3 separate regions of the Homo sapiens genome follow, and all the other regions are linked to region 1. Evidence: fine-mapped expression QTL. A gene starts in region 1. Each other region holds a variant in brackets. All regions are shown on one strand. Distances are between the middles of the regions. Region 1 holds the start of CNTN4 (contactin 4). Region 2 overlaps CNTN4 (contactin 4). Region 3 overlaps CNTN4 (contactin 4).

Evidence for each region. PIP is the estimated chance that this variant, and not a neighbour inherited with it, causes the effect. A credible set is the group of variants that fine-mapping cannot tell apart.
Region 2: its variant is the best candidate, but not a certain one, in a credible set for the expression of CNTN4 in atrial appendage (GTEx, PIP 0.78).
Region 3: its variant is the best candidate, but not a certain one, in a credible set for the expression of CNTN4 in thyroid (GTEx, PIP 0.68).

Annotation. Positions count from the first base shown.
Region 1 is chr3:2,095,044-2,105,584 of GRCh38, forward strand. CNTN4 (contactin 4) reads left to right here and starts at 3,823. Exons shown (of 25, transcript NM_175607.3): 1 at 3,823-3,935; 2 at 5,515-5,596. LOC124909338 (a long non-coding RNA gene) reads right to left here and starts at 3,212. Exons shown (of 2, transcript XR_007095785.1): 1 at 3,104-3,212; 2 at 2,538-2,915. RefSeq lists an enhancer at 1-386.
Region 2 is chr3:2,988,604-2,999,144 of GRCh38, forward strand. All of the region lies in intron 14 of CNTN4 (contactin 4), which reads left to right. Among named protein-coding and RNA genes, the nearest start is that of CNTN4-AS1, 67 kb to the right of the region's middle. The variant C/T (reference allele first, on the strand shown) is at 3,958.
Region 3 is chr3:2,416,668-2,427,208 of GRCh38, forward strand. All of the region lies in intron 3 of CNTN4 (contactin 4), which reads left to right. Among named protein-coding and RNA genes, the nearest start is that of CNTN4-AS2, 280 kb to the left of the region's middle. RefSeq lists an enhancer at 2,164-2,333. The variant A/G (reference allele first, on the strand shown) is at 4,501.

The DNA.
Region 1 (10,541 bases):
GGGTGTCTCACAGCCACGTTTATAAAGGAATCTTGGCTGGGGTGTCAGGTTTCTAGTTTACTTTGACTCTATCTGTCAGTCTGTGTCCAACCTTCATGGCAATTAACTGTGCTTTTGTGTGCTAATTATCATTATCCCAGTATGGGCCCATTATTAGTCCAATGTCCTTAGTTTAAAGCTTAAGTGTCAATCAGTCACCTAAAACAATTGCATAGAAGGAAGCTTTGCAAGGCTGGTTTGAAAGTCCTTAGCTGAGTTCTACTTTATTATACTCCAGTTCGAAACTGAACACAAAGCTCTTCTTGATACAATTGTTTATTTAAATACTGATTTATCTACTTAATTAAAGCAAACTTGAGTTTATATTTTAAAATCAGGGATGGGATAATTGCTACTTTATGCTTGAAGATCTATTCAGGTAGCTATACATTAAACAAGTAAAACCGTAATTATAAAACCTGCACATTTTTATCTGATTGAGTCGCTCCTGCCATTGAACGACCTTATTCAAGTCATTTAGAACAAAGAAAGGTGGCATATATGAGTTTTTTAAAATCCCACTGGATGCCAGGAGTAAGGAGAAAATAGCATCAAATCAGATGTGGTCAGAAAAGAGGTATTTCTTTTCCTGTGATGCTTTTCCTCTTTCCTCCTCTTACAGTAAATCCCCACTTATCAAATCTTCAGATGTGTAGAGAAGGAATAAGGCAGGGGTAATGGGGGAGTGGGACAGAGAGATGCCCTTTCTGGAGTTTGCACAACGGTTGCATGCTGAGTAAAACCTGATGATGTATTCCATTCATGTCTCCAAAAAGTCAAAAGCGGTTTCAGCGTTGATTTCCCTTAAGAGTTATCAGTCCTCATTCAATTGGTTTAATGAGTGTAAGAGGTGACCTTGTGTCTATGTAGATACTCCCATATTAAAAGACCTGGATGTAAAACTTCACATATGTGTAAATAGTTATTTTGGAGGGTGTTGTGAGGGTTATTGCAGCTCTCTGCTCAGCTGCTACTCAGGCTAAACGGGCAGGAGAAATTTTCCACTGTGTTAGAATGATGATTATTTGCAAATTACATGAGCACCAGTAATTCATTCATGCAATGATACAGAGCTGGGTCTCAGTGCAGTGGTATTGAACTTGCTGCTGGGGGCGTTAATTGATTCGTTTGGAACATTCCCCTCCAGAGAATCCCAATCACAGGTCCCCTGATCAAGAAACGGACACGCAGTCGGGGTCCTGGATATGTAGAGACACACGTGTGAGGCTGTTGTCATCAAAATAAACCATTTCTGTCCCCTGACAGGGGTTGAGTCTATTAGGAACACTCCCCAATCCTGGGAGCTTCCGCAAGAGGCTTTCTATCTTGGCAGAGGTGGCAGCTGAGCATCGCTTCTTTGCTGCAGGATGGAAAAAAGGGACTGGATTATTGGCTGCATTTTAAACTAGCTGCTGTTCTAGAGAAAATGTTGGGGAGGGACTGAACAAGCTTAGCACTGGATCAGTGTGGGGGTGTGTTGGTGAAAAGAAAAAATGCCTCCTCCTAACTTAACGTTTAACTGATATCCCCTCAACACGACCCAAATCTGTCTCTCCAGATACACAATGTCTGTTTTCCTAACTACATGGTGAACTGTGGAGCAAGTCTTGGTCATGTTTAGTTTGTTTCCCAGAATCTACTAGAAGACAATGCCTAGCATATAGCAGGCACAGAATAAGGGCCAAAGGGGAGAATGGAAACAAAATATGTACATTTGAAATTTAGAAACACAGTTAAGGGACTTTGCCTGAAATTGTCATAAAACTTTGAAAATTGCTTCAATGTATAGTCCCAGTGGGAGAATGTGACAGCATATTTTATTCTTTGTTCTTTTCTGAAATTCTGTGTCCAGTCTAAAACACGACATTTCCCTTTAATGTGTTAGGAGTATGCATGACTACACAGGAATATTTTCTGGAGAACTTCTGGTGAAGCATATTTTGATAAACAGTCTTACTAAAAGTTATATATATGTACTTTTAATTGACTAGTTGCAGAGAAATAATCAATGTAAAAAAAAATCATACATAGTACAGGTAGTAAAAGTCACAGTTCCGGCAGAAGCACAAAAGCCTTCAAAGTGAGTGGGAACCTGGGAACCATTGATCCTCAGTGGCTGTTTACCATGGAAAACACCTGCATCACCAACATTCCAGTTTTGCAAAAGTACCTCTATTACAGACACATACCAGGCAAGGAGGGAGGAAAAAGCCTGAAAATTTCTCTCCAAGTTTAAGTAATCAGGAAACTTTGGTGGGGAGGTTGGGGTGGGGTGGGGGCGGGGGGGTAACTTCTTTATTTAGCATTAATCTCAGCAATCATGAAAGTCATGGAATTTCAAGTGATGAAAAATTTGACCACAACAATACCTATCACTAGCCTGGTTTTGCCCACTTCTCGAACAGGAATTATAAAGATAATAATTAATTCTAAAAAGCAGAAGACAAAACAAACAAACCAAACCAACACTGAATGAACTAATAAGGCTGCTGCATATATATGTTGGAGTTGGATGTTTATTTGCTTACTGCAGTAGTTTAAAAATAGTTTTCCAGTTAACATCTTTTCCACATAGTGGAGATGTCAGGGTAGGTTTACATGATTGCGTAAATGGTCAGAAGTTGTTTATGTAGCTCTGAACTGCTGAGAGATGAGCAGGAAGACCTGGGTTCAGCAAAACCCTTGGGGCTTTTTCCCAGAGAGAGAAACAGAGGCTCCTCTCTGGGTTGCTGGAATGCTTTCCAGACGAATTCGACTGGGTTGGCTTTTCTCTGCCTGTCAAAGTCACTTTGCACAGTGCTGGTGAGGGGCTGGGGCATTGCTGCCAATCTCTACGGTTACCCCGAGGTGTGGAGTTGCGGCGAAGGGAGCCACTTCTGCAAGGAAACAGTAGATTCATAATGTAGAATGACCGTGGCAACGTCGTTCAAAGCACATTCTTTCGAATAACAAGGCTTTCGACATGCCCCACCCCCGCGCACAACACACCACAAATTGATCCTTGTACCTAATTTACAGCAACTGTTCCCTCTGACCTCCCCCCGCCCCCGCCCCACATTCCAACCTGAAAGCACTTTGCGTGGATGAGACTTCAGGTGTGTAACGCAGCCTGTCCAGCCAGTGTCCTCCGCCTAAGGACAGGCAGGTAAAAACCTACCAAAGCCCCCTCTTCTGGCCTAAGTTCAATGCCACCCGCCCACCCACATTCCCCGGTTCAGCAATTTTCAGCCCAGACGCAGAAGCATCTGTTTCCCTGGCCAGGGCGCCTTAACGATCCCCCGAATTCCGCGTCTCCCGGAGGCCAGAGGTTTGGGTACCCAGGAAGGTCGCGCCTCCTCGTGCCCCGATACTCGGGTTGTAAAGGGAGGAGACATCGCCTCGGCGCATCCCTGGCCGCTGAACAACGCAACCCCTACGTCCCCGCACGGGAATCCGGCTGATAATCTCCTCTTGCCTGAGAATCGGGCCAGGCGCCCTTTACTAATTTCGCGCGCTGGGGACCTGGGGCTGCCGCCTCTCGGCCGCGCGGGGCAGGTGCTGCGTCCCCAGCGCTCGCCTCCTCCGGCCGCGCACTGAGCATGCGCGGGCTCCGGGCCTCCGGCGCGTCTCCCCGTCCCCGCTCGTCTCCCGCCCGTTCCCACCCGCCCGCGCCTCTCCCCTTCCCCGAGCGTCTCCCCCGCCCCGCGGCTAAGGAGCCGGCAGCCCGAACTCCGGCGCGCCAGGTTTTTCCAGCCGCCGCGAGCGCCGGGAGGGAGGGCAGCGCCGCGCCAGACGGAGCCCGGGGTTCGACGCCAGGATTGGCTGCAAGTAGGGAGCTTTCGCCGCCGCCCCGGGCCCCTCGGACTGTGCCGGCGCCGCACCCGAGGCTCTCGCCAGCCCGGCGCCCCGGTGCTGAGGTAAGTGAGGCGGCAGCTGTGCGGGTCCGGCTCCTGCGTGGGCGCGCGATGCCCCGGGGACGCGGTCGCGGGTGTGGGGGGGAAAGGGCAGGGTCCGCGCGGGTTGCCCGAAGGACAGGGGCGCTTCCCGGGGCTCTGACTCCCGCGGGGCCGGGCAGCGTCTGCGGGGCCGTCCAGCTCAGAGCCCGGAAGCCCTGCAGGGTCGGGGAGCGGGAGCTGAACGCCTGAGCGCGGAGGACTCAGGGCCCCGACGACGCCACCGTCACCCCACAGCGACCCTTCTTCTCCTTCTCAGCCGGAAAATAAGTTTGTTGCGCTGCGAGGCAGCCACAAAACAAGGAACCGAGAGCCCGGAATGCTGCGGGAAGCCTTCAAGTCAGCTCCTCCGACTGGTTCGGGCTACTGCCCCCTCTCCGTGCGCCCTGGCCTCTGGCGCCGGGTTCCCGGCGGGGCTTTTCTTCTGACAGCCCAGTCACAGCCCGCAGCAGAGGGACGCGAACCTGGGGAGTGGAGGGACCTGGGACTAAAGGAACAGGAGCCCGTAGCCGTGGTGGAAGGAGCCGCGTGGAGACGGAGGCTGATGTCTGTGGCGCCCGCTGGGTGCCGGGCTGGCTGCTGAGCGCTGAGGCTGCGGCGGCGAGCGACAGGCCAGGTGCCTGCTCTTAGGGAAGGTACCTGGCTTCCCCAGTCTCTGCCGCGGGAGCCTGTTGGGTGGCATTCGTTTCCAGCAACTTCTGGGGGGTTTCCAGTTTCTTTCGAGAGGCAAGACAACCGCCCCGTCCCCTCCCCGGGCCCAGACGGCGGCGAACTGTGCGCCGGGCGCCCCACAGACCCCAATCCACTCACTCTCCTTCTGGAACGCGGGGCTCAAAATCTTCGTGCATTTTCTCTCTTGTGCTTCGTGTATATGTTTTACTATTTATGAAGGGTGTGGAGGTGAGGGTAGGAGGACGTGGGCTCCTGAATCCCTCTGAACCAGCCAGAGAGTCGGCTGCATGGAAACATTTCGCAGCGAAGCTCCTGCGAGGAGGCGGCTTCGCGCGTCGGGAAGATCAGGCGGTTGCTTGCTGGCCAGGGTCTGCAGATTCGGTGCGAAGAAGCTGGCGGAGGTTGTGTAGGGCGAGTCAGTGTGACTGAGCACCCTGGGTGTGTGGTCTGCGTGGAGGAGAGTGGGCCGGATCTTGAGGTGTGTTGGAGGTTTATTTGTAAGAGGAGTTCCTGAAAGGAATGTCGTGGAACTTTTTCTAGTTTTCCTGCTGGAATCAACATAGGGGCGGGCACATGTTTGTCAGAATAACAGTGGCATTTAACTGCATGGGAAGCTCTTTCAATTTTCTGTAGTGGGAGCTGGATAGTTCAAGGAGTAACTCCACATAACTGAGTCGTTTGGATACCCACACAAGATAATTTGGAACGCGCTTGTATTTTTTTGTTTTTTGAGATTTCTGGTTTATGTCCTTTAGAGAGTGGGGTAGGAGCGTAAAGACTGTATAGGTTGCCTATGAGCAGGTCCATACAATAGCGTTCCCAAGTCTGCCTAATAGCAAGTTTGTTCTCTCTTTCTCTCTCTCTACCCAAGTGGGTGAAAAAGAACAGTGTGTCATGAAGACAGGCACCTGGAGGTGATTTGGGTGGCATTCATGAGAAAATTCACGTTACCCGTAAGTTTATTCTTGCTATTTTTATCTTGATTTCTTTAAAGATTTTGTGGGAATATCTGCAGTGGGTCGCAGGAGTAGGTAAGATTGCTAAGGATCAAAAACAAGTTTCATGAGAATATTATTTTTGCTACCTTATAAAATAGCTATTGATTTGTTTGTTGAAGCTGGTTTCAACTGCTCTGTCTTGTTGAGGAGAGATGATGCTGATAAACGTCATTATTTTTCCATCTGAACCCTGGGAGGTAGCTGGCAAGGATGGAAAAACTGACCTTTTCAATTAAAGACTAAGAGTCTAAGAGAAGTGACTTGGATAAGGGTGCATGTCAGAGCCACATGTAAGTTTCAACAGAGGTAGATTTTCCTATTTGCAGTTTTTTAAACAACACTTTTCAGTTTCTTTGAGTTGTAAAACTTTTCAAGTCAATTGGGAGTCAATGCAGTACCTTTTTCCATGGTCATTTCATATTGGCAGGTAATTAAGAGTGATTAGAGAACAAACCTTTCAAATGATGTTGGATTTTTTATCATTCACTTATTTTACCTACTTCTCTCTCCTTTTTGTTCAAAAGTAGGTCTTCTGATTTCTTTTCCGATCTAAGCACTAAATCTTTTGGCTGCAGTTTTTCTTCTGAAATGTATACAGGGCATCCGTTCCTTCAATTTAGGTCTTAAAAAAATAAAGCTGCTCAGCAGAAAATTCCCATGCATGGTACTGACTTTTCTACAAGTTTGTCTGATCATGATTTTAACTTGTTGTTTCTTCTTTGTTATATTTGAGGACAGACATAATATGCATTAGCTTCAATCTCTCTTATCTTAAAAATTAATATTTTGTAAAAACTTGCTTTTATATTATTTTAGTTGAATAAGTCTATTTCATATGATAGGCAGGGGGAAGTCTCTACACACTGATTTTTTTTGTTCCTTTTTGTTCATTTTTCCCTGTAATGCTATGTTTTAAGCCTAGTGAAGGAGGCAAGGAGGCAGGATTTACTGCCTAGATTTATTGATCTTCATTATTATTATTATTTACTATCAGAAGAAATCTGACAACATATCAATAAAATTTATTTATAAACTGAAGACATGCTGTTATATGATACACTACTTATAAAACACACAAAGAAACAAAAAAGATGAATAAAGCAAAAATTATGAAATAGAAGGTCTCATGTTGCTGTTATGTATCCCGGTGGATCATTTTGTACAGCCCCTGGGGTGTGTAGCACACTTTAAAGATCACTGCTGGTTTGATATTTTTAAAATCTTTCTCTCCTTATCTCTGCTCTGCTGTTCATCATCTCTGATACTCTAGCCAGTTGTAAAACTGCTACACTTCTATATCTTCTGTAACAAATAGATTAAGCACACTTGTTTTCCTCTCATGGACTCATATGTGGATAGAATGAGGTGTAAAGGATGAATGTGTTTTGGAGATGTCATCTTAGATCTCCCAAAGTAGACATACAGGTGAATTTTAAAAAATGGAGTTTTAGTTTAAAGACTAAGTACCAATGGTCAGGAAGTGAAGAATCCAAGGAGTAAATGAGGGAGGATTGGAAGGACACTTTCCACATTGCAGTGTTGTGTGGAGGCTGGAAAGTTCATAAACCTTGAAGCAGATTAACCTGAATCTAAGTCTGGCACCATCATTTATTACATTTACAGTCCTGGGCAATGTAGTTCCTTAATTTCTGTGAGCCTTAGTTTCTTTAGGTATAAAATTGGGATAACATCTATTTCACGGCATCACGATAGGGATTAAACATGAGAGCATGAGTCAACATGGGTCAAGAGCTTGGCTCTTTTAGATTGGCTCTTTAGCAGATATAACAGATCCAAAAGGGATACTGCCTCAGATGTGAAATATATTTATTTCTCGGTTGTGTGAAGTCCCAGAATGGGTGATCATGGCAGTACTCCTTCAAAGTGTGATTCAGAGACCCAGCCTTCATCTGTTCTGTGCCCTTGCCGTCTTCAGCAGGGTCACTGTGCTTACTTGCATCAAGCCATTGGAAAGAGGAAGACTTGGGAGGATGTTAATTGCCCAGAACTGGAATGAGTGCATATTACTTTTCCTTGCATTGTGCTGGCCAGAACCCAGTTCTTTGTGGATGTACGTTACTATTAAGGAGGCTGGGAAATATAGTCTAGAAATGTTATCCAGGAAGTAGAAGAAATTGTTGGGGGAACAACTAGCATTCTCTGATGTTTTATTACTATATGTGATATTTCTTCCATGTTCAATAACTGTTACTTCCTTTTCTTCTCCTAACCCTTGCTTTTTTTTTTTTCTGGTAGAAAAACTGGAATGGATACAATAAATAATAATAGAAGCAGTTAATACATACATAATGCTTACTATTATTGAGATACTTTTTAAAGCACATTGCCCTACTTTGCCCTTCTAATATTATCTCTATTGTACAGATGAGGAAAACTAGGCATAGAGAAATTAAGTTATTTGTTCATCATAGCTAGTAAGTAGCAGAGCTGGGATCTGAACCAGGTTCTCTCACTCCAGAATTGATTTTTTAACAGCTTTTTTTTTTTTTGCTTTTGCCTCAATACTTTTCTTATTTAAGCCACTGGACCGCTTTTTACTTTTGCCTATATATAAAAAAGTTGCCAAGAGAATTTTTTAAAATACTAAAGTAGAAAAAAAGGATATAATCCAAAACATACTGGAATGGAATTAGATATGATACAGCTTTATCTTGAATACCTACCAGGATCAGGAGCAGATATTTAAAGTAACTCCCCCCACTTACACACCCTTCACCACTACAACTGCTCTTTCATTTGTGATAAACACATTTTCAGGGTCTGTGCCTTGAATTATAACCTTCCTCTGAAGATTCTATTGTGGGAGTCTTGCGCTACCACTTTCATGCTTCAGTATGTGAGGATAAATTCCTCTTCACTTCTCAGCAGAAACAAATATCTTCCCTGGCAGGTTTTTCAGCTAAAATAGCCTCTCCTAACTTTTGATCAAAGGTATTGCTCTTTATCAATATCCCCATCCTCCAAGAAAGGAAACCCTCTTCTTTTCCTATGAGCTTTGCAAAATTATTTTTTATTTATCTATTTATTTATCTTTATTTTCTATATGACTAAGGGGACTGTATATATATCCCAGGTACCGTCTAAAAGAAAATGGTCCCTCTTGTTCTCATCCTGTTGTCCCATTTCCATTAGAGAATCTGCCTCATCTTATGTTTCCTATGTATTTGTCTTTCATAAAAATGCCTGTTAGAGTTTTGGTTCCCAGTGGCTGCAGTGGAAATGTGTAGTGGTCAATAGTAAGCGTATACTTTTTGCTAAGATAGTTATTGTTTCAACATTAAAGAGTGATTTTTTTCCTCTTGTTCAGTATGTATTTGTTGCATCTTCACAATTAGGTAATGATATGTATCTTCTTACCATGTAGGTAGGCATAAATACTGTATACCTACCAGTCATTTCTTTCCCAGAAGCCCCTGTTCATTTCCTCTTTACTTTCCCTGAGCCTCACATCCTGAGAATTTTGCTTTTTTTTCTGAACTCCTCTTTCTTCCAATTTTTTCCACTTCTGTGCCATTTATGTCTACGTGTGTGTGTGTGTGTGTGTGTGTGTGCGTTTCAAGTCCCTTCTTATGATTTAATGGGGTTGGAGGGCTGGAGAGGTTTTCATGTGCTTACTGTCATGTTTTCAGCCAAATTCCACAGGGCCTTGTAACAGGCTAACATGAGCAGATAAGCTCTTAATTTTCAGTGACTTATTTTAACTTTTTACTTCTTGCTCATGTGTGGTAGTTCAGTACTCATAGAATAGATCCTGACTGAGTGGCTGTCCATGGGGTCATTCAGGGAATCAGGTTCCTTAGAGTTTTATGGCTTTGTTCATCTTTAAGTACCTAGAGTCCTCATCATTCAGTCAAGATACAGAGTGTGAGGAGATAAATAATCCAGAGAAGTCTTATTGGAGGTTGTTGTAGGCACAGCCTGGAAGTGGTTGTCATGACTTCTGCCCACATTCCTCTGGGGTGGACCTCAGTCACTTCGACATCCTTTGCTGCAAGGGAAGCTGAGAAGTGGTGTCTAGCTGAGTGCCTGGGGGAGAAGGGTGAAAGGAAAACAGGTTTGGTAAATAACTAGCCAGTCTTTGTCACAGGTTTCCAATGAAAGCATGTGAGAAAATCAGCTAATTCTCTAGGTATGGGGAAAAGAGAGCATGGATTTTGGTTATTTGCCAAATAAATGCCCATTGCCTTGCTTCCTTTTAATTTTGACCTCTATTACTATCCCATTCTTAGTGCATATGGTCTGGGTGGGATTCCGTTTCCCATTTAAGGATTGGAGCATGGGAACCAGGTCTTGTCGGGAAGAGCATTGACTTTTCCTGTCCACAGTAATTGCTTCTAGAACAGAACAGGCATGGACCCAGTGAGAACCACTGCAGTGAGATGCTTTGCTTTTTCTCAGTGGCTCTAGTTGGGCTCCATGTATGCCTTTGAACTAATTCCTGTAGATAAGGAGATTAGAACCAGGGAGCATGTGGGCCTGCCACTGCTGCAGCTGTCTTAACACCAAAAAGAGAACCTAGACCTGCTGAGGTCACCACATACTACTTGAGAATGAAGCCAACAGAACAGTAGCAAGGGGCATGATGGAGCAAAACCAGCTCCTCTTGCATCATGTGAGCCCGTTAATCTGGCTATGCCTAAAGTGAGTTAACCTGGTATATTAGTCTATTCTCACACTGCTAGAAAGAACTGCCTGAGACTGGGTAATTTGTAAAGGAAAGAGGTTCAATTCACTCAGTTCCGCATGGCCTCAGGAAATTTACAACCATGGCAGAAGGCACGAGAGAAGCAAAGGCAGGTCTTACATGGCGGCAGGCAAGAGACAGTGAAGGAGGAAGAGCCCCTTATAAAACCATCAGATCTCATGAGAACTCACAATC
Region 2 (10,541 bases), 890 kb after region 1:
CAAACATGATATGATTAATAATTCTTAGAAAACTGCTGGTAATGAATATGATTGAAAGGCTATCTTATTTCAGAATCATCCAATACAATTTTGAGAATTATAGCCATTGTATCTCTTATAGTATTGTAACGAATGTTATCTTCAATCCTTTAATTAAATTTCTTTCAAGTCTCTATAGATTTGAAATTCATGTCTAGGAACACTATTCCAACAAATTAAAAACTCAAGACTCATGTACTATTTTTAGAAAACATTGTTTAAACAATGACATTGGTAATTTTTAAGATAGCTGTCCCATTTATTCAGAGATATGGATATGGCTTATTATACTAATAGAAGGCTTTGATCACCTCTATGCTTTGCCTTAGTCACCCAGCCAACCTTGTCAGTTTTAAGGAAATAAAATTCCCATATACCATAGCCTGGGTGCTTTATAATTTTTGTAGCAGAAAGTCCTTTATGCTCTTAGCAAAGCACGTGAGTGAAACTATTTCAATATTAGCTTCATGGCATGGGCTGGAAGTGCTAAGTAACCATTGAAAAGGAGAAAATCTTAATTTACATTTCATTTGCATTTCTTTCACTTTATATATTGCCCTGTCATAGGATTTTTGAGTTGAAGGGATCTTGACAATGATTTGACTGAAGAAGATGAGGCTCAGGTTGGTGGTTCTCTCAAGGTCACGAGTAGCAGGAGACCTGAACCCAGATCCTGATTCTGAGTTCTTCTTGGTCCTTTATGCTGCACCAGGAAACAGGAAGCCTTTCCTGTTTCTGAGTAATTTATACAGATGGGTCATATCATATTATTTCCTTCTTGCCCATTTGTAGTTCCCTTGGTGAAGACAGATGAAGGCAAATAAAAATATCAAAAAAAACAATTTGCCTTTAATTTAAAGAAGAAAGCTAAAAATTACCTAATTAAATATTTTAGGGTCATTAGAAGTTGGAAATGTACTACTCTTTTGGGAAGTCTTTTTATCATTAACATACTTGACCATGCAGATAGAAAATTGGAAGTCCAAGAGTTAGAACTAAATATATGTTTAGATTGATTACAACTATTTCAGTCTATTAATTACTTCCTCAGAGCACTAGCATCAGTGTATGACTGACTGCTTGTTCACTCTGTTTCATAGGCAAAGGAAAAAGAGGTTAGATAATATTTGTAAAGTGCAGTTCTAGCTAGAGGTTTTTGCTAATGTATGACTGTCTTGGCTAAAGGAAGTTTAGTAATCATTTAGGACCAAGAGAGATCTCAATGTTTCAGAGCTGGTTAGACACAGAGCTGGGATCTGTTATAGATTATTTGTGAATTATGGAGATATAAGAGAATATTAGGTTGACATCTTAAATCATAGTTAAAAGACAGGGATTCAAGTCAGAGTGATCTGGATTTGAGTCTCATTTCTACCACTTACCAGCTCTTAGACAAGACACTTAGCCTGTGTGGGGATAATAGCAGTGCCAGTCTCATGGAGTCGCTTTGATAACTGTGAAAATCCATGTTAAGTGATTAGTGTGGTGCCTGGCACCTAGGAAATATTAATAGTTGTTTTGTTTATAAACATGTTTTCATAAAATGAGGTTGTTCTGATGACTGTGGTAATCCATGCTAAGCGATTAACAGGGTGTCTGGCACCTAAGAAATATTAGTATTTGTTTTGTTGTTTATATATTTTCAAATGGATATGCGTGTATTCTAAATCCTGTTGAAATGAACATTTATGATATTTCCACCCCAATAGAATAATTAGCATAGAGAAGTGAGCCTATAATAAAGAAATGACTAAGAATATGAAAGATTCAAAACAGCTAAGCATAGAAACCATATATATGGTGTCTCATATTGTTAAAAGTAGGGTATTTTCACAGGTAGGAACAAGGTATGTTCTGTATTTTATTATCATCCTTCTTATAAGTATTGGCTTCCTTGGCTCTCCCAAGAGTTGGCAGAAAGGAGAGGCCTCTATTTCCCATCAGAGTTTGCATCCCAGTGATACCACAAGCCCCAGGACAAAACCGTTCCCAACCAACTGTGCAGATCCCTGCTGCTCATCTTACACTGAATCACGATGCAAAGCCTACAAATATATCAGGGATTAAATACGTTATAGTTGCCTCATTTTTGTGTGGTTATAAATATTGCTAAGATAGTAATTTCTACCTATTCTAACAAACAAAATAATTTATTTCTTGCCTTCTAGTAAAATGTGAACAAGTATTCACCCAAGTAAGTATAGGATATAGTTTTAGGCAGTTTACAGTTACAATTTTTTAAAATTTTATTAACTATTTGTTTCTTTCAAGGTATATTAGGAGAACACTAGTTTTCCACTAACGGCAATAATAACAACAATATTTCAAAATAAATTTACGTAAAGAAGTGAGTCGGTACAAAGAAAAGTACTAAATATGCATTGTTATAGGAGGATATGCAAAAAATCATGAAGATGGTATATGTGAATGTCTAAAACTAGGAAACATGACTTGAGGACAATTTCCAGGAGAGTTTTAGTGGACTTATAGATGCAGAATTAGTATGTCCTGCCTATGCTAGCCACATGATTCGCTGAAACATGCACAACACTTTAAAAACTGAAATTTCCTAATAGGTGAGAGAACGAGGAGGGACTGAGGTAGGAAGAGCCTGGCCCAGTACAAAAAGAGGAAGGCAGGGATGTGTAGGTATGAGCCATGAGGTTAAGGGATGATGTGCCCAGGTAGCCTGATTGACAGGTAGAATTCATGTGTTTCCAAGCAGAGTTATTTCTGGCAGTGGCTCCTGGTTCTGAGCTGCAGTTAGTTTCTCCACAGAGGTCCTCTGATTCTTATATTCTTCTTCTAGGTGAGGTGGGGGAAAAAAGTTTTATTTGGCCAATATGTTCTCAGGAGTTAACAATCCTGTTACTTTAGATAAGGTCAGAAGAGATTTGGGGGATCATTTATCTCCCAGTGTGGTTGGTTCTCACTCCCATTAGCATTAATGGGAAGTACGTGTGTCTGCAGAGGGGCCATCCACAGTGCGAGGTCTCCAAGAAGGACATTAACATAAACTGAGAAATATAATTTAAAAATCTGCCCCATAAAGCACGATATAGGCAGAGAAAACCATTCTGAACTCCGCATGAACTGTGCCAAGTCCTGAATCCCACATCAAAATGCTTGAGCCCTGCACCTTTAGTGCAAGTGTAACAGCTTAGCCCGAAATATGACTGAGCGCTGTATTTTAATTCAATTTTGAGATCTACAAAGGGACTAATTTATCAGAGAAGGTGTTCTGTAACCTTAAAATGTGCTTGTATTCTTTCCGATTTCCTCATGTGTCTGGGATTAAAACACCGTGAAGGTCGGGCGTCAGAACATATCTTTTCTAACCTTTTTACAATAGTTCTATCATTAACCATGCTTTCAAAATCCAATTCTCTTTCTCCCTACCCTTGCCCCCATGTTTCGGAGAGAGGCTGAAGATAGTGTCAAACACAGGGTCAGCAGGTAGGGGAGGAGAGGGAGGTGGCACATCTATTCCACCAGATACAGGAGGTTTAGAATAAACCTCTGACAAGCAATCATCACATGAATAAATATTCAGATTCTGCATGAGCAGGCTCCCAAACTGCAGAATTCTGACAGGTGCCCAGGGGGCTCTTGATTATCATCCCATCATCTGAATTCCTAAATTTTACTGGTTTTGTTTTTCAGGCTAGTTATAATATACTTGGGATTTGGTTTGCTGTTTCATTTTAAGCAAGAACAGTTCTTAAGTCAAACCCTCAAATACTCACAGAAAGCATAATGTTAGACCTTTAAACAAAAATGTGCTTTTGTGATCATTGACATCATTAAGAACTCTACAGAGGGCAGGGTACATTTATATGCAATATTGTACTTACTAAATCATGTTTATCTCTACAGCAGAGTTAAAGGGGTGGTGGTGGGTGGGGATTTTGCATGACA[C/T]AGTGCCTCTGCTATACAGGTTTCATATGACAGATATTTTTAAGTAGCAGTCCTAGAGAAGAGCAATTTAGAGTATTTGTTTGGATGTAGTTCAACAAGATAACTATGTTAATAGCAACCCTCACTCCTATTGATTATCTCCAGGACTCAAAATGTAGGGCAGTATGCTGTGGATGCTGTTAACATAGTCATCGTGCTGAACTACATCCAAACTGACCTTGAGCAATTTTGCAACTGGTGGTTCCAGACTATACTTTGGGAAACACTGTCCTACACCAAAGAACTTCGTACATGCATGCCACCTAGCAAGTGACAGTTCAGTAGAGTGCATATTAGAAGTGCAGATCTCCTGGGCCTCACTCCTACCCTAACAAATCTAACTCCTAGGGAGGAGGCCTGGAAAAACCTACATTTAAAATAAATACCCCAATTGATCCTTATACACATCAGAGTTTAGAACATTGCATTTTCAGGGGTTTCACACTATGCTCTGTGGGCCAAATCCATACCTGTTTTATATACCCCAGGGGCTAAGCATGGTTTTCACATGTTAGCTGGTTGAGAAAAAAACCAAAAGAACAATAATATTTTTGGGCATGAAACTTTTATGAAATTCATCTTTTAGTGTCCATAAATAAAGTTTTGTTGTCACATAGCCATGTCATTTTTTTACATATTAACTAAGGTTGCTCTTGCCTTACAACAGCAAAGTTGAGTAATTATGACAGAGACTGTGTAATTTTTTTTTTTTTTTGAGATGGAGTTTCCCTGTTGTTGCCCAGGCTAGAGTGCAATGGTGAGATCTCAGCTCACTGCAACCTTTGCCTCCCGGGCTCAAGCGATTCTCCTGCCTCAGTCTCCCTAGTAGCTGGGATTACAAGCAGATGCCACGACGCCCAGCTAATTTTTGTATTTTTTAGTAGAGACAGGGTTTCACCATGTTGGTCAAGGCTGGTTTCGAACTCCTGACCTCAGATGATCTGCCCGCCTCGGCCTCCCAAAGTGTTGGGATTACAGGCATGAGCCACTGCGCCCCCCGAGACTGTGTAATATATAAGTACCTATATAATATCCTCAACTTTGCCACTTCTGCAAAACCTTAAATATTTACTAGTAAGTCCTTCACAGAAAAGAAAAATACTTATCCTCTCTTTGATAACTTTTTCTCTTCCTCAGATCTTCAAAATTCTGTCCAAGGTATAGTCTGGCCAAGCTATACACAACTTTTCTTGTACCCCTGCTGATCTTGCATGCTGGAAATTTCCACATGTCCTTGAGTCTGATTATTAGCTGGAAGTGGTAGGGAGTTTTCTTTCCCAGGACCTTAGCCTCACCCCAGTATCCAAACAGTTGACTTTAGAACTTGGATACGAGTTGAAAATCCAGAGGAGAGATAATAAATCATTGATTGAGAGGGAGGAGGAAAATTACTTGGCAGACACTGGAACAATAATTCAATTTGATTCTCCAGCATGTGGGGAGGATTCACACAGCTGGAACCAGAATAGTAAGCTAAGAAGACCCTAAAGTAAGAAGCACATGACCTGGTGTTTTTTTAAAACACTTCTCTCTTCCTAAACCTCCCACCGTCACCAGCCTAAATCAGCAGAACTGTTCCACCTTTACCTCATAATTCTCAGACTGCATGTTCTTCCTCTAATAGCAATTTTTTTTTATTTTGAAATTGACTATATAAAGTTTTACCCTAATTCTGTCTGGATTTTAAAAGAGTTCTTTTGGCTTTTCTGTTTATTTAAATGTCTAAATTCAGTGCATAGAATTACTTTTATAATAAGAAAAAATAAATTTATACTTTAAGTAGCTTTAATAGAAAAGAAGTCTTTAGTGGAAATTGACTAAGATCACAGATACACGTAACAAGAAATTATTTTGTATTTTCATTCTTCAACCCTACAAGCCGAAAAGGTTCCTGTGGTTTAGCTGAGCATTTAACGGATTCCTTTATTGCCAGAAAGAGTGCTCATTGTTCACCCCATAGAAAGTTTATTTATGTTTAAATCAACAGATTTTTTCATATATATATATATATATATGTGTGTATATATATATTTGTACCAGCACCAAAGAGTATCTACAGCATTACTATTGCGCACTATATAAAATTCTTCTGTTTTAACTGTAGGACATTGGGAAATATCAACCTTTCCATGCATAGCATAATAGACGCAATAAAGTAGAGTCTTTTCAGTTGGAACTTTATTTTGCAAATGAGTTTGAAGCAGCCCAATCTTCTATGTAAAACTGTTCAAGGCTTTATACAGATTTGACAGGGGATCAATCAGAAATCAGTAACATACAATGACGGTTGGCTGCTAACACACAACAAAAGCTTTTAACATTGGTCCCTTATAACTGAATACATTTCAACCCAATTAGATATCTTCCACTGGAACCAATTATTTCTGGGTGATAATTAAGGGTATTTCTAATAGGATTAACACAAATTGTGACCCTAGGCATCTAGAGTAGGAAGGAAAAGTTTGTCATTAGAAGTGCTAAATGCTAATTATGGTAGGTCCCTCAGTAGAAGAACATCTGGCCAGAACATTTCAATACTAGATCCTGTTAGATCTGAGATCTGTCACCCTGGAGTTGGTACCAGCTATGGTAGGAGAATCTTAAAAGAAGGGTAGGTAATTGTGCATCTTGTTCTTCCTGTGTTCACAAAGCGTGTGACATAACCTGGAAATCTGATGAAACAGGGTGTGATTATTTCCTCTGACATTCTTATGGACATGTGTGAGAGCCACGTAGATTGAGCAAATAACATGCCTTTGGCGATATCAATCATGAGTAGAATGATTCCCCTTTTGTCCAAATCTCTCTGTAAAAACCTTCTCTCCTTTTGTAATGCTGATTGCATACCATGACAGTCTGCCCTGACTCCAGCCTGCCCATCACTTCTCCATCCTTGGTCTAGAGGGAAGATGTAATTCCTTAACTGTTACATTTCTCTATGCCAACTCTGTCTTTCGTAGCAAAGCCTCTATGCTGAAGACAGGCCTCGTATTTTTGCTTTTGGCATAAAAGACACTCTGTGGGTCAAGAAGCTTGTGTGGTAACATCACCTCATTAATAATCAGGGAAAGGCAATGTAAGCATCTGTGTGGTGTGATTTTTTTACATATGAGACTGGCAAAAGAGAAACATCTAACAGTACCTTTTGTTGGTGACTATGTGAGGAAAATGGTACTCACACACTCTCAGTAGGGATAGAAATTGCAATAGATACTGTGGAGAGCAAGTAAAATTGAGAAAGTGCAATCTCCATGGCCCAGCAATTCCATTTTCTGGGCATTTAACCTAGTGGGATTCACACGTGTTCTGAGGCAGACTTGCAAAGGTGTTCCTTGTGTTGTTGTTTGTAATGAAAAGAAAATACAAGGAAATTAAAGAATAATACATATGGTATCATTTTATTTAATATATTGTATGATTAAATATAAAATTAGTAATATAAAATAATACCTTATAATGTTTGCATACAGAATACACATGCGGCATAAGCCCTAACTCAGTATTTGGAGGGAGGATGCCTGGAGTGAGATTATGTGAAAGGACTTTAGCTGTATTGGTAATATCTGTTTGGGTAAATTTTTAATATATATTCATGGGGGGAAAAAGGCTGGAGGTACATGAAAATGTGTTAAAGCCTTCTAATTCTGGAAGAGGGAATATGAGCACATATTGGTAAATTTTTGTTGTAGTTTTATATGTAAAATATTTCAAATTAAAAAGAATACCTCAGGTCAGAATCCTACATGGTCAGATATTGCAGGCAAAGCCATCCAGACAGGAGGTCTGTTTTTTCAGTTCTCTCTCAGATATTGTAGAAGAGACACCTTTTACCTGGTGATATTTAACCCATCCCATACAAATAATTTCTTTCTTGTAAGGAAAAAACTCTCCTATAAAATGAATTAATGAATTCTTTTGTAATGAATATTTACTAATCAGAATAAACAAAACAAACAAACAAAAAAGGCAAACAGAATATGACTCTTTGGCTTCATTATATGTGAAGCACATAATTAATTTCTTTTCCAGCAATTCAAAGAGACTTATGTTATACTGATTCAGTTTAATTGAACTTATTACCACAAGAAGATAATAAGAAATATATTGAAGCTATCCATCTGGCTTGCATTGAAAACCTCACATGTTTCATTCTTCATGACTGTCATAGGCCATACTAATTGCCTCATTTCAGCTGTTTTATAATCAGTATGATTTAGCTATGAATGCGATAAAATTCTTACTCCAGAGGAAGTTGATATTAAAAAGCATAGATCTCTCACCTAGCTCTGCTACCACTTCTGAACTCATCCTCAGCATTATTACAGTTATATATTTTTGAAATACATAAATAAAAATCTATCTTTTTCTCGTGCATATCTTTTTAAAGTACATCTGTCATCTTCCTTCTGTCATCCTGCCATAGAGCTATTCCTTTACTGAAGGAAAGAAATGGTTTATGTTAAGCTTTTCAGTTCATTAAATGTTTAAATCTCAAGGTAGGTTGTTTTCAAACTATGGAGTCTTTAAAAATAATTTCCATAGCTGAAATGGAGTTTAAATGGCTAATTGTGTAATAAATAAAGAGAAAAGAAAACTTAGGCACTTTTACCTTCTGTCTCTAAACATCTGAACTTCCTGTGGCTTGAGAATGATGCTTTGTCATGTAGACTGGTTTTATGTGCACATGATCTCTCAGAAGAAGACGAGTTTGTGGTATGTCTATGTGTATGTTTTAAATCATCTGTCTCCTTGTATGTTAGAGGTGGTCCCATGGGGGGAGCCAACAGTTGGTCCCAGGTCTGAAAGGGAAAGCTTGGTTTCTTATAAAGCTTGAATCAGAAAGGAGACGTGTCAGAATAATTCATGAGTGACTCTCCCCTTCCTGTTTTGGCATTTGTTTTCTGTGCCAGAGGCAGGAGGAGTATAACTCTCAAAGAGGCAGTCCTACCAAATCACGACTGAATTTCTTTGGCTGTCGCAGGCAATCAAATTTAAGAAAACTGCCCAAAAGACTTTAGGCCTTTAGGTTAAATACAGAATCTGACCAAGATGAAAGCAAGTTAATTAACATTTTCATCATCTCTCTCTGATTTACTGTAGAAGATCCATTTCTAAAAAGTTAAAATGGTTGTCTCTTTTATGTATCCATTTGAGGAGGTGAAAGTAGGTTCCTGGTTATGGGAGAGGAAATGTAAGCAGAACATTTAGAGTTAACAGTGGCTTTTTGCTTGGCCTTCTAGCAGGTCTATAATCAGTGTGCAAAAGTGCAAGACATAATTAAGTGAAGATTAGCAACATTGCTTTGAAGATTTCCCAAACTGGAAAACATACCAACTGTCATCTTATTAACTTTTTCCCCTTTTCTCTCTCTTCAAAAGTAGAACTGCTTATAAATGTAAGTAAAGCTTGGATTCTACCTAGAAGAGGAGGATCCAAAGGGTCAAATCAGAACTGCCTTCTCCTCCATGTATACTTTAATAAGCCTGGCCCACATCTCTCCTGATAGAACATGTATCTGCCTCCATTGGCTTTGTCCACAGCATGGGTAGAACACCTGGTCACTGTGCAATTTGTACCAACACTTCAACTTCTTCATGTGTAAGACAAAGGAAATTAAATTATAATGACCAGTATAGTTGATGAAGGGACACTCTGATGCAGTCCAAATATGAGGGAATAGTCAAAAGGTACAAAAGACAAAACTGTCTCCTCCCTGTAGGCCATTGTGAGCCGTAGACCACAAGCATCAGAATCACGTAGGAGTTTTTAAATAAATGCATATTCCTGGACCCTACCTCTGACCTGCAGAACCAGAATCTCCAGGGATGAGACCCAGGAATTTTCATTTTCAACAAGTTCTTCAGGGAATGCCTACACTCAACAAAGCCTGCAAACTTAGGAGCTCAACCTTTAGGAGTAGATACTGATAAACAAAGACACAGAGCTGTGTTCAAAGTACAGAAGGAACACAAAGGGAGGCAAAACTAACTAAGAGGTAAAGGTGACAATTGAACAGGGAATTGAAATATGAGTAAGAGTCTACCAGATTAAAAAAAAAAGTCAAGGTAATCCCAGGAAAAAGAAATGTATCTAATGGCCCCAGTACATGAAGGCTCCTAGCATATTCAGGGAAAATACAGTGGAAAAGTGAGGGGAACACACCCATAGCTATTGCTCATATTTCAGGAACTGTGGAAAATAGGCAAATACTTTGATTCCCTTTTTAATGGAAATAAAACAGATTTCATGAACTGTAGCTAAGTGACATGACGCCAACTTCAGTAGAAATTTTGCTTCTTCTAAGAGACATTAGAATGAAAAGTAGTTATCACCAGCATATGATTTTTTAAAATTATGTTGTAATTATATTATTTGTAGAAATATTAGCAAAAAGATAATCTCATCATTCAGAGAGATCCACATAAATATTTTTTATATTTTCTTCTAGAATTACATCCAGGCTGTATTCAATCCATATCTACATCTGTATCTTAACTGTGTATGTATCTGTTCTCAGATCTGTAAATAAATATCCTTATCACAAA
Region 3 (10,541 bases), 320 kb after region 1:
TTTTAGGACGGAGTCTCTGTCTGTCGCCCAGGCTGGAGTGCAGTGGTGTGATCTCAGCTCACTGCAAGCTCTGCCTCTCGGGTTCCCGCCATTCTCCTGCCTCAGCCTCCCGAGTAGCTGGGACTACAGGCGCCTGCAACCTCGCCCGGCTAATTTTTTTGTATTTTTAGTAGAGACGGGGTTTCACCATGTTAGCCAGGATGGCCTCGAGCTCCTGACCTTGTGATCCACCTGCCTCAGCCTCCCAAAGTGCTGGGATTACACGCGTGAGCCACCGCGCCCGGCCCAGTGTCGCAACTTTCTATGGTATAAGAGTTACTTTGTTTAGCAGAAGTCTCACAGTTTGAGAATTAACCTTCTCAGTGGAGAGCTGGCAGACTGGTTATAAATAAGGGCTTCAGCTCCCTTAGTGTGGGACATGCTGCCCGCTCCCTTCAGGTACTTATCTGTCCTGGACCAGACAGAAGCACATCTGCTTTTCATTTAGCTTACTTCCATTTCTCCACTTCCTCTCTTTTGTCAGTGTTAAAGCTTAAAATGATGAAACAATCCAGCAGTTATCCAACTACAGATAAATAACTGCTGGACTGTATCATCGTAGACAGTTGGTGAAAAATTCTAGACCAGAATCCAGTCCCTTCAGTCTTGTATTCTTTCTAATGTATTGAGAACAAGACAGGAACATTGATTACCTATTTTTAGCTGGTTTCAAAAACAGTAACCTCAATTCCACAATCAAGATTTGGATTCAGAAATACTGAGTTTGCACTGAGCTCTTTCCTGCTTCACTTTGGGGTCATGAGAAAGGCTGTGAATTTCTGCTTCATTCCGATTCCCTCATTTTAATAACCTGCCAGGAGACCTCTAGGGGAGTGATTGTAATAAACTAGCTAATAAAATGAGATTAGAACCTTCAAAACTAAACATCCTCTTATGATACAATCCAGCAATCACACTCCTTGAGATTTACCCGAAGGAGGTGAAAACTTATGTTTACATAAAGACCTGCACACTGATGTTTCTAGCAGCTTTATTCACAATTGCCAAAACTTGGAAGCAACCAAGATGTCCTTCAGTAGATGAATGGTTAAGTAAACTGTGGTACACCTAGAGAATGGAATAATATTTGGCACTAAAAAGAAATGAGCTATCAAGCCATGAAAAGACATAGAAGAAACTTAAATGTGTATTACTAAGTGAAAAAGCCAATCTGGGAAAAAAGCTATATACTTTATTATTCCAACTATATGACATTCTGGAAAAGGTAGAATGACTATGGGAAGAGTAAAAAGATCCGTGGTTGCCAGGGATTTGGGGTGATGGAGAGATTAATAGAGCACAGAGGATTTTTACGGCAGTGAAACTAATCTATATGATACTATAATGATAGATACAGATACATGTTATTACAAATTTTTCCAAAACCATAGAGTGTAAAACATAAGAGTAAACCCTAATGTAAACTCCGGACTCTGGGTGATAATGATATGTCAATGTGGGTTCACTGATGATAATAAATATACCGCTGGTGAGGTATATTGATAGTTCAGAGAGGCTGTGTGTATAGGAGGGCAGGCATATATGGAAAATCTCTGCACCTTCCCCTCAATTTTGCTGTGAACCTAAAGCTGCCTAGAAAAAATAAAGTCTGTTAAAAAATCACCACAGAGGCAAAATGTGAGATTAGAACAACCTCTTCAAAATAATACACAGAAAGTATTTACAAATGCTAACTAAGACATAGGGTTCAAAACGTAAAACTGCTCACAGCCCAGGTACTAAAATTAGATCAATCTAATCATTAGATACTCAATCATTAGATACAATAGAATTTGCCCCAGTAGCAAATGTTTACTTTTGATTCTGTTATACACTACTTAACATGGTCCAGTGTCAGCATAAGGCTGTAATTTGGCGATTGCATTTCTTTATTTAATAACTGCTGATAAAGCTGAAATAAAGAATCAGTAAAAAGGTTTCACTTTTGTAAAGCACATCCAGGGTTTATAGGAAAGGAAATATTTCAGCATTTCTGATATATAAAAGAACAAAGGTGTTATATTAAGAAAAAATAATACATAAAACAATATCAGGGACATTGAATTGATGAAAGTAATCAGTAACATTTTAAATCCATGTTGGCTTGCATTGTGAAAGAAGGGAATAATTTACAGTTCATGATATTTGTATTTAGATGTTTGTATTTTTATTGTGTTTAGAGAATCCCAGGAAAGGAAAGAATCCTACAACCCGTAGGATGAAAAAAGCTTTGGATCTCATGCCAGGACAAGGGCACTGATGCCCAAAAAGATAAAGGCCTTCCTCAGAATCTTATGGGAAAAGTCAAATTATTTAAAATTAGCTCCAGGGTTCATGAGTAAGATTAATTGGTAGAAGTTAAATGGCTATATGGTTCACGTTTAAAAATAATTTCTAAAAATTGGATACCCCTTATGAGAGAAAATATAAGTGGCTTTGAGTAATAGTTTATATTCCAATTATTGCAAGTAATCAATCATATACCAGGTAATTTCCTGACATGAGTTACATACCAAAAATTATATTGGATGAAAAGCTCGAATGAATATAGGTAACATTCCACTCTAATGTAGCTTTCTGTATCTTAGAACATTCAACTTTATTAAGACTTTATAGTTTTTAGGAATAGAGTTAATAAAGAACTTGGAATCTTCTATCAAGAAATAAAGAGGTGGGAGTGGGGAGATCTACCTCTGGAGATTCTCATGTGTTCAGGATATATTCAACGTTTATTTGTTCCTAGGCAGGGTACAGAATAAACTGATACCCGTAAGTCCATTCTAGCCCAATGTTTCAAAAAATGCTGGCATTTTAGTGAAATGTAATATGGATAACATAAGGTAACATTGCGAATAGTGAAGTCTGCAACTAAAAGATAAAGCATTTAAATGTCAAATAGCATTGTGTAAATAAATCTAAAATGAAATTTTCAACCAGTTTTTAAAACTTACTTCCACTAACAAACATAACATAGTGTCATGCAGAAGATGATGAGGAAGCAAAGAATATGTTAAGGAAACCTGTAGAAAACCAAATGCCTTCTTGTATTAAATGAGTTTACCATGTCTTTCAAGGAATAATCATGTTTATACAAATGTGTGTGGTTTCCAGGACCCATTTTTCTTTTCCTTCCCTATACATGCAAACATATACAAATATATCAGCTCACATACTTATTTCCCTGTGGTTTCAGACTATTAAATGTTTATAATTACTCTGCTTGATGACTGTAATTTTTAGTTACAGATCGAATTGTCCCAGGTGTGGATGCTGCCAAAAGCCACGGTCATTGGCAACATGACATCTGGAAGACAGTCTGGCATGTAGAGTCAGGGAATTTGCTAGAAGTTGTTCCTCATACAGTGCAATAGTACAAGCAAGCATTGTGACTCCCTGCAGCTGGTGCTGTCAGTGCCCTATCCATATGCCTCAGACCTTTAATTGTGTTTCTGAGGAATGCTTCTAACTCCTAGTATCTGCAGGTTTGTTCCTCAGCACTTTTTCCAAAAACTGTGGGAAATTGCACTGCTTATATGCACAAGTGAGCTTCATATAAGGAGAAAGAAAACCCTCTAGGAATAGTTCTTAATTAATGACTCTCAAGAGGTGCTGTATAAATACCAACTTCTCTCACCTCTCTGGTGGGATAACTCTGTGAGGTGTGCTTTATGTCATGTCAGAGTTTCTCTGCAGGATTGCCTGCTATATTCACTGCTTGAATAGAAAATTCTTTTTTTTTTTTCCTTTGAGACAGAGTCTCACTCTGTCCCCCAGGCTGGAGTCCAGTGGCACAATCTCGGGTCACTGCAACCTCTGCCTCCCAGGTTCAAGCAATTCTTGGGCCTCAGTCTACCGAGTAGCTGGGACTACAGACATGCACTACCATGCCCACCTATTTTTTGTATTTTTAGTAGAGACACGGATTCACCATGTTGGCCAGACTGGTCTTGAACTCCTGGCCTCAAGTAATCTGCCTGCCTCTGCCTCCCAAAGTGCATTGCAGCTGTGGGCCACCGCGCCTGGCCAAATGTTCTTTACTGGACGCCTTCAATCCCCTTGTCATTTCCTCATTTTCTTTCTGGCCTGCACTTCTTAAACTAGTTACACTGTAATACTTGTTTTAGAGTCTGCTTCTGTGATTAACGTTTCTGATCAGTAAAATGGCATAGCACTGCTTACCTCAAGAGATGGCCGTATTTTGTCAGAGAAAGAATGTACTTCACGTTTTGCCTAATAAAGTAAACGTTCAGGACCCAGCAGTTGCATTTTAAATGATCCCAGTGTTTGCCCTGTTTTTGAAGTACACATGTGCTTCTGGGAAAACTCAAACTAAGACACACCCCACACCCAACTGGCAAACACATGCCCTGTTGAAAGAGTCTGCAGAAGAGTCCTTGCTTCAGGTACATTTTTCACATTCCAGTCCCAGTTTAGCCCTCCCCCATCACCTTAATGACCACC[A/G]TTGCATAACAAGCAATGCCTTCTTGTGAGGCATTAGAGGTGACTAGGAGTGAGCTTTAGGGTGGGTACCCTTCAGGGGGTTTCTTTTTTTTTTTTTTTCCTTGACTAGGAGTCTGGCTCTGTTGCCCAGGCTGGAGTGCAGTGGCGTGATCTCAGCTCAGTGCAACCTCTACTCACGGGTTCAAGCAATTTTCCTGCCTCAGCCTCCCGAGTAGCTGGGATTATAGGCACTTGCCACCATGCCCAGCTAATTTTTGTATTTTTAGTAGAGACATGGTTTCACCATGTTGGCCAGGCTGATCTCAAACTCCTGACTTCAAGTGATCTGCCCACCTTGGTCTTCCAAAGAGCTGGGATTACAGATGTTAGCCACCGCTCCCAGCCCCAGCCTTCATATTGTTTATCTTGATTTCTTTTTTCTTCTCTGTTGTAGTGGATAGCACCAGACAATCAGTAGTTGAAGCCCTTTTCACATCTTCACTGGGCATTCTATTAAATGACATATGTGTTCTCCCCAAACTCTAACATCTGTTCATTGAAAATAGGGCAAACACCAAGACCATTTGTAATACAATTGCTGACTATTGAATATTTACTTTGTTAGAAAAAATGCTAAGTACTTTACAATATTTCTCTGCAATAAAACTCATCTTTTGAGCTAACAATGCTATTCTCATTCTACTAAGGAGAAACTTTAGTCACAGAGAGATTAAATAATTTGCTCAACAACACACAAGGAAGTAAGAGTCTGGGAGAGAATTTGTACTTTTCCCTTCCTTTTAGATGTCATTCATAAAAAAAAAAAATTAGTGTACCTGATTTTGTACTCCTAGCCACTATTTAATCCTGCCTCTGTAATTAGCTTTTATGGATAAGTTTATCTTTCCGTACTCAGAAAATAAAATAGTAAAATAAAAAGGCAGCACAAGGTGTCACTAAGTGGCTTTCACCAGAGGTGAAGTTGTACAGAATTAGAGAGGGGTTTTAACCACATCTAGAGCACTGCCCATAGAGGAATGCAGACCAATTTCTGAAGTCAATTTGTGTTATCCCCTGCTCCTTAACCTGGGTTCCAATACCAGTTACATTTAAGGAACTCTCCTTCCCCCTCTTTCCAGACATTTCCATGGTAGAAACACAGTAGTAGTTCAGGAGTTAGGAGACCTGGGCTTTAGAGCTTTTTATAAAATGGGATGTCTGAATTTGATAGTGTGCAATGTTCCTTCCAACTCCAAACAGATGTTGTCATTTTCACAGCCTCTAGAAGCCACAGGTACCTTCTCAATTAGAAGTTCTAAATGATTTGTAATAGTGAGCACTATTTGGATTCCTGACAGCCTATATCAGGAAAATAAGCAAAGTTTTGGATCAAGTGCTTATATCTAAAGCCATTGCTTTATAAGCTGGTCTTCACTGCCAATTCCTTCTTCCCTATAGATTGTTGGTATTTCTGGTCTGGATGGGTTACAAGAATTTATTTTATTGATTTCCTGAATCTCTGTACATCCTTAAAATAATTCAGAATTGGAAAGAAATACATTTAGCTCTTTGTCACATAGTGTAGAGATCTTTTGACATAAAGAGAGAGCTGCTGATATTCTGTTTCCCCTAATGCCTGAGTGTGGCATGGTTTCAAAGGGTTGCTTTATCACATGTAGACATGGAGGGACCATCAGGTAATGAGATATAACATTTCCTGGAAATTAATTAGTGGTGTGTTGTCCAGGAACTAAATTTCTTTTACTCCTGTTTGCCACCTGTCCTGGATGTCTAGTGCCGAATTTGAATTTCCATGCCAAACTGAAAAAGCAGCATTGGCTTTAGTTGCCCTCTTTTTCACATTAACTTAGGGTTTTAGCATGTAAAGCGACTGCGTTGTTTTAGTGGAATGAACTTAGAATGAACTTCAACAGTGATGAACTGATAACCAATTAAATAAATAATTGATTCATCTGAGAACAGTCTGACTCCTAGAAGTGGTGTTCCTAAGAAGCTTTTGTGTAACTGCCCTCTGGAAAGCCTCACAAGTTGTTGCCTTTCTTTCTTTATTTTTTCCAAATGGACAATTTTTGACAAACAAACTTCTAAGAGCAGTCAAGTGTCAAATACAAAGTTATGGCTGGTGCAGCTGCCTTTGGGATCACACGCTCCATTTATTCATTATAGAAAGCTCAGATGCACAAACATGTGGTGCCATTTTGTGTACCTGTCAGTTTAGTGCGTTTAATGAACATTGATCATGCTCATCCAGACACACTTCTCGATGCTGCAAGCAGGAAGTCAGTGGTTTCTGAAAGACAGGGTGAAAACTTGTTTTTTTTTTTTTTTTCAAATGTGCCTCTGTGGAATCCTTTTTGCCCAAAATAGATGCATTAATAAACATGACTAAAATGTACCTTAAATTCACTACAAAAGAGAAAAGATGTTGATGAAAAATTTGCTCTGGTTTTGCTAATATTAAGTCCAGTATTTGTCTACTTAAAGTAGAAGTTTTGATGACTTGGATAATCATTAGATTGCTATCTAGCTATTTGTAGTTTTGTAGCATCATCTGTTCCAAAACTGATTTTTTGCTCTCTTTTAATACCCTGTTAATTACAAAACCTCCTACTGGGTAGTTTTACCATACATAAATTCTGTCAAGTACTGCTGAATTAATTGGTGCCGAACATCGTTCCGGTCTATGGTGGGAGTAATAGTTCTTATTTTCTTGCCTTTTAATGTTTGGACACAGGAAAAGGAATATCACACACCAGGGCCTGCTGTGGGGTGGAGGGAGGGGGTTTTTTTTGATTAGGCAACATACCTAATGTAAATGACGAGTTAATGGGTGTAGCACACCAACATGGCTGTCAAAATTCCTTTCAAAATTCTCATAAAAGAGGTAGTTTAGCTTCTTTTTTTAAATTGTATTATACTTTGAGTTCTAGGGTACATGTGCACAACGTGCAGGGTTGTTACATACGTATACATCTGCCATGTTGGTGTGCTACACCCATTAACTCGTCATTTACATTAGGTATGTTTCCTAATGCTATCCCTCCCCCCTCCCTCCACCCTACAGCAGGCCCTGGTGTGTGATGTTCCTTTTCCTGTGTCCAACTGTTCTCACTGTTCAATTCCCACCTATGAGTGAGAACATGTGATGTTTGTTTTTTTGTCCTTGTGATAGTTTGCTGACAATGATGGTTTCCAGCTTCATCCATGTTCCTACAAAGGACATGAACTCATCCTTTTTTATGGCCGCATAGTATTCCATGGTATATATGTGCCACATTTTCTTAAGCCAGTCTATCATTGATGGAGATTTGGGTTGGTTCCAAGTCTTTGCTATTGTGAACAGTGCCGCACTAAACATATGTGTGCATGTATCTTTATAGCAGCATGATTTATAATCCTTTGGGTATATACCCAGTAATGGGATGACTGGATCAAATGGTATTTCTAGTTCTAGATCCTTGAGGAATGGCCACACTGTCTTCCACAATGGTTGAGCTAGTTTACAGTCCCACCAACAGTGTAAAAGTGTTCCTATTTCTCCACATCCTCTCCAGTACCTGTTGTTTCCTGACTCTTTAATGATCGCCATTCTAACTGGTGTGAGATGGCGTCTCATTGCGGTTTTGATTTGCATTTCTCTGATGGCCAGTGATGGTGAGCATTTTTTCATGTGTCTGTTGGCTGCATAAATGTCTTTCTTCTTTTGAGAAGTGTCTGTTCATATCCTTTGCCCACTTGTTGATGGGGTTGTTTGACTTATTCTTGTAAATTTGTTAGAGTTCTTTGTAGATTCTGGATATTACCCATTTGTCAGATGGGTAGATTGCAAAAATTTTCTCCCATTCTGTAGGTTGCCTGTTCACTCTGATGGTAGTTTCTTTTGCTGTGCAGAAGCTCTTTGGTTTAATTAGATCTCATTTGTCCATTTTGGCTTTTGTTGCCATTTCTTTTGGTATTTTAGACATGAAGTGCTTGCCCATTCCTATGTCCTGAATCGTATTGCCTAGGTTTTCTTCTAGGGTTCTTATGGTTTTAGATCTAACATTTAAGTCTTTAATCCATCTTGAATTAATTTTTGTATAAGGTGTAAGGAAGGGATCCAGTTTCAGCTTTCAACATATGGCTAGCCAGTTTTCCCAGCACCATTTATTAAATAGGGAATCCTTTCCCTATTTCTTGTTTTTGTCAGGTTTGTCAAAGATCAGATGGTTGTAGATGTGTGGTGTTATTTCTGAGGGCTCTGTTCTGTTCCATTGGTCTTCATCTCTGTTTTGGTACCAGTACCATGCTGTTTTGGTTACTGTAGCCTTGTAGTATAGTTTGAAGTCAGGTAGCGTGATGCCTCCAGCTTTGTTCTTTTGGTTTAGGATTGTCTTGGCAATGTGGGCTCTTTTTTGGTTCCATATGAACTTTAAAGTAGTTTTTTCCAAGTCTGTGAAGAAAGTCATTGGTAGCTTGATGGGGATGGCATTGAATCTATAAATTACCTTGGGCAGTATGGCCATTTTCACGATATTGACTCTTCCTATCCATGAGCATGGAATGTTCTTCCATTTCTGTCCTCTTTTATTTCATTGAGCAGTGCTTTGTAGTTCTCCTTGAAGAGCTCCTTCACAACCCTTGTGAGTTGGATTCCTAGGTATTTTATTCTCTTTGAAGCAATTGTGAATGGGAGTTCACTCATGATTTGGCTCTCTGTTTGTCTCTTATTGGTGTATAAGAATGCTAGTGATTTTTGCACATTGATTTTGTATCCTGAGACTTTGCTGAAGTTGCTTATCAGCTTAGGGAGATTTTGGGCTGAGACAATGGGATTTTCTAAATATACAATCATGTCTTCTGCAAGCAGGGGCAATTTGACTTCCTCTTTTCCTAATTGAATGCCCTTTATTTCCTTCTCCTGCCTGATTGCCCTGGCCAGAACTTCCAACACTATGTTGAATAGGAGTGGTGAGAGAGGGCATCCCTGTCTTGTGCCAGTTTGCAAACGAAATGGTTCCAGTTTTTGCCCATTCAGTATGATGTTAGCTGTGGGTTTGTCATAAATAGCTCTTATTATTTTGAGATACGTCCCATCAATACCTAATTTGTTGAGAGTTTTTAGCATGAACGGCTGTTGAATTTTGTTGAAGTCCTTTTCTGCATCTATTGAGATAATCATGTGGTTTTTGTCCTTGTTTCTTTTTATGTGATGGATTACGTTTATTGATTTTCGTTATGTTGAAGCAGCCTTGCATCCCAGGGATGAAACCCACTTGATCATGGTGGATAAGCTTTTTGATGTGCTGCTGGATTCGGTTTGCCAGTATTTTAATGAGTATTTTTGCATCGATGTTTATCATGGATATTGGTCTGAAATTCTCTTTTTTTTGTTGTGTCTCTGCCAAGCTTTGGTATCAGGATGATGCTGGCCTCATAAAATGAGTTAGGGAGGATTCCTTCTTTTTCTATTGATTGGAATAGTTTCAGAAGGAATGGTACCAGCCCCTCTTTGTACCTCTGGTAGAATTCAGCTGTGAATCTGTCTGGTCCTGGACTTTTTTTGGTTGGTAGGCTCTTAATTATTGCCTCAATTTCAGTGGCTGTTATTGGTCTATTCAGGGATTCAACTTCTTCCTGGTTTAGTCTTCGGAGGGTGTATGTGTCCAGAAATTTATCCATTTCTTCTAGATTTTCTAGTTTATTTGAATAGAAGTGTTTGTAGTATTCTCTGATGGTAGTTAATATTTCTGTGGGATCATTAATGATATCCCCTTTATCTTTTTTTATTACGTCTATTTGATTCTTCTCTCTTTTCTTCTTTATTAGTCTTGCTAGCGGTCTATCACTTCTGTTGATCTTTTCAAAAAACCAGCTCCTGGATTCATTGATTTTTTTGAAGGGTTTTTTGTGTCTCTATCTCCTTCAGTTCTACTCTGATCTTAGTTATTTCTTGCCTTCTGCTAGCTTTTGAATGTGTTTTCTCTTGCTTCTCTAGTTCTTTTAATTGTGATGTTAGGGTGTCAATTTTAGATCTTTCCTGCTTTCTCTTGTGGGCATTT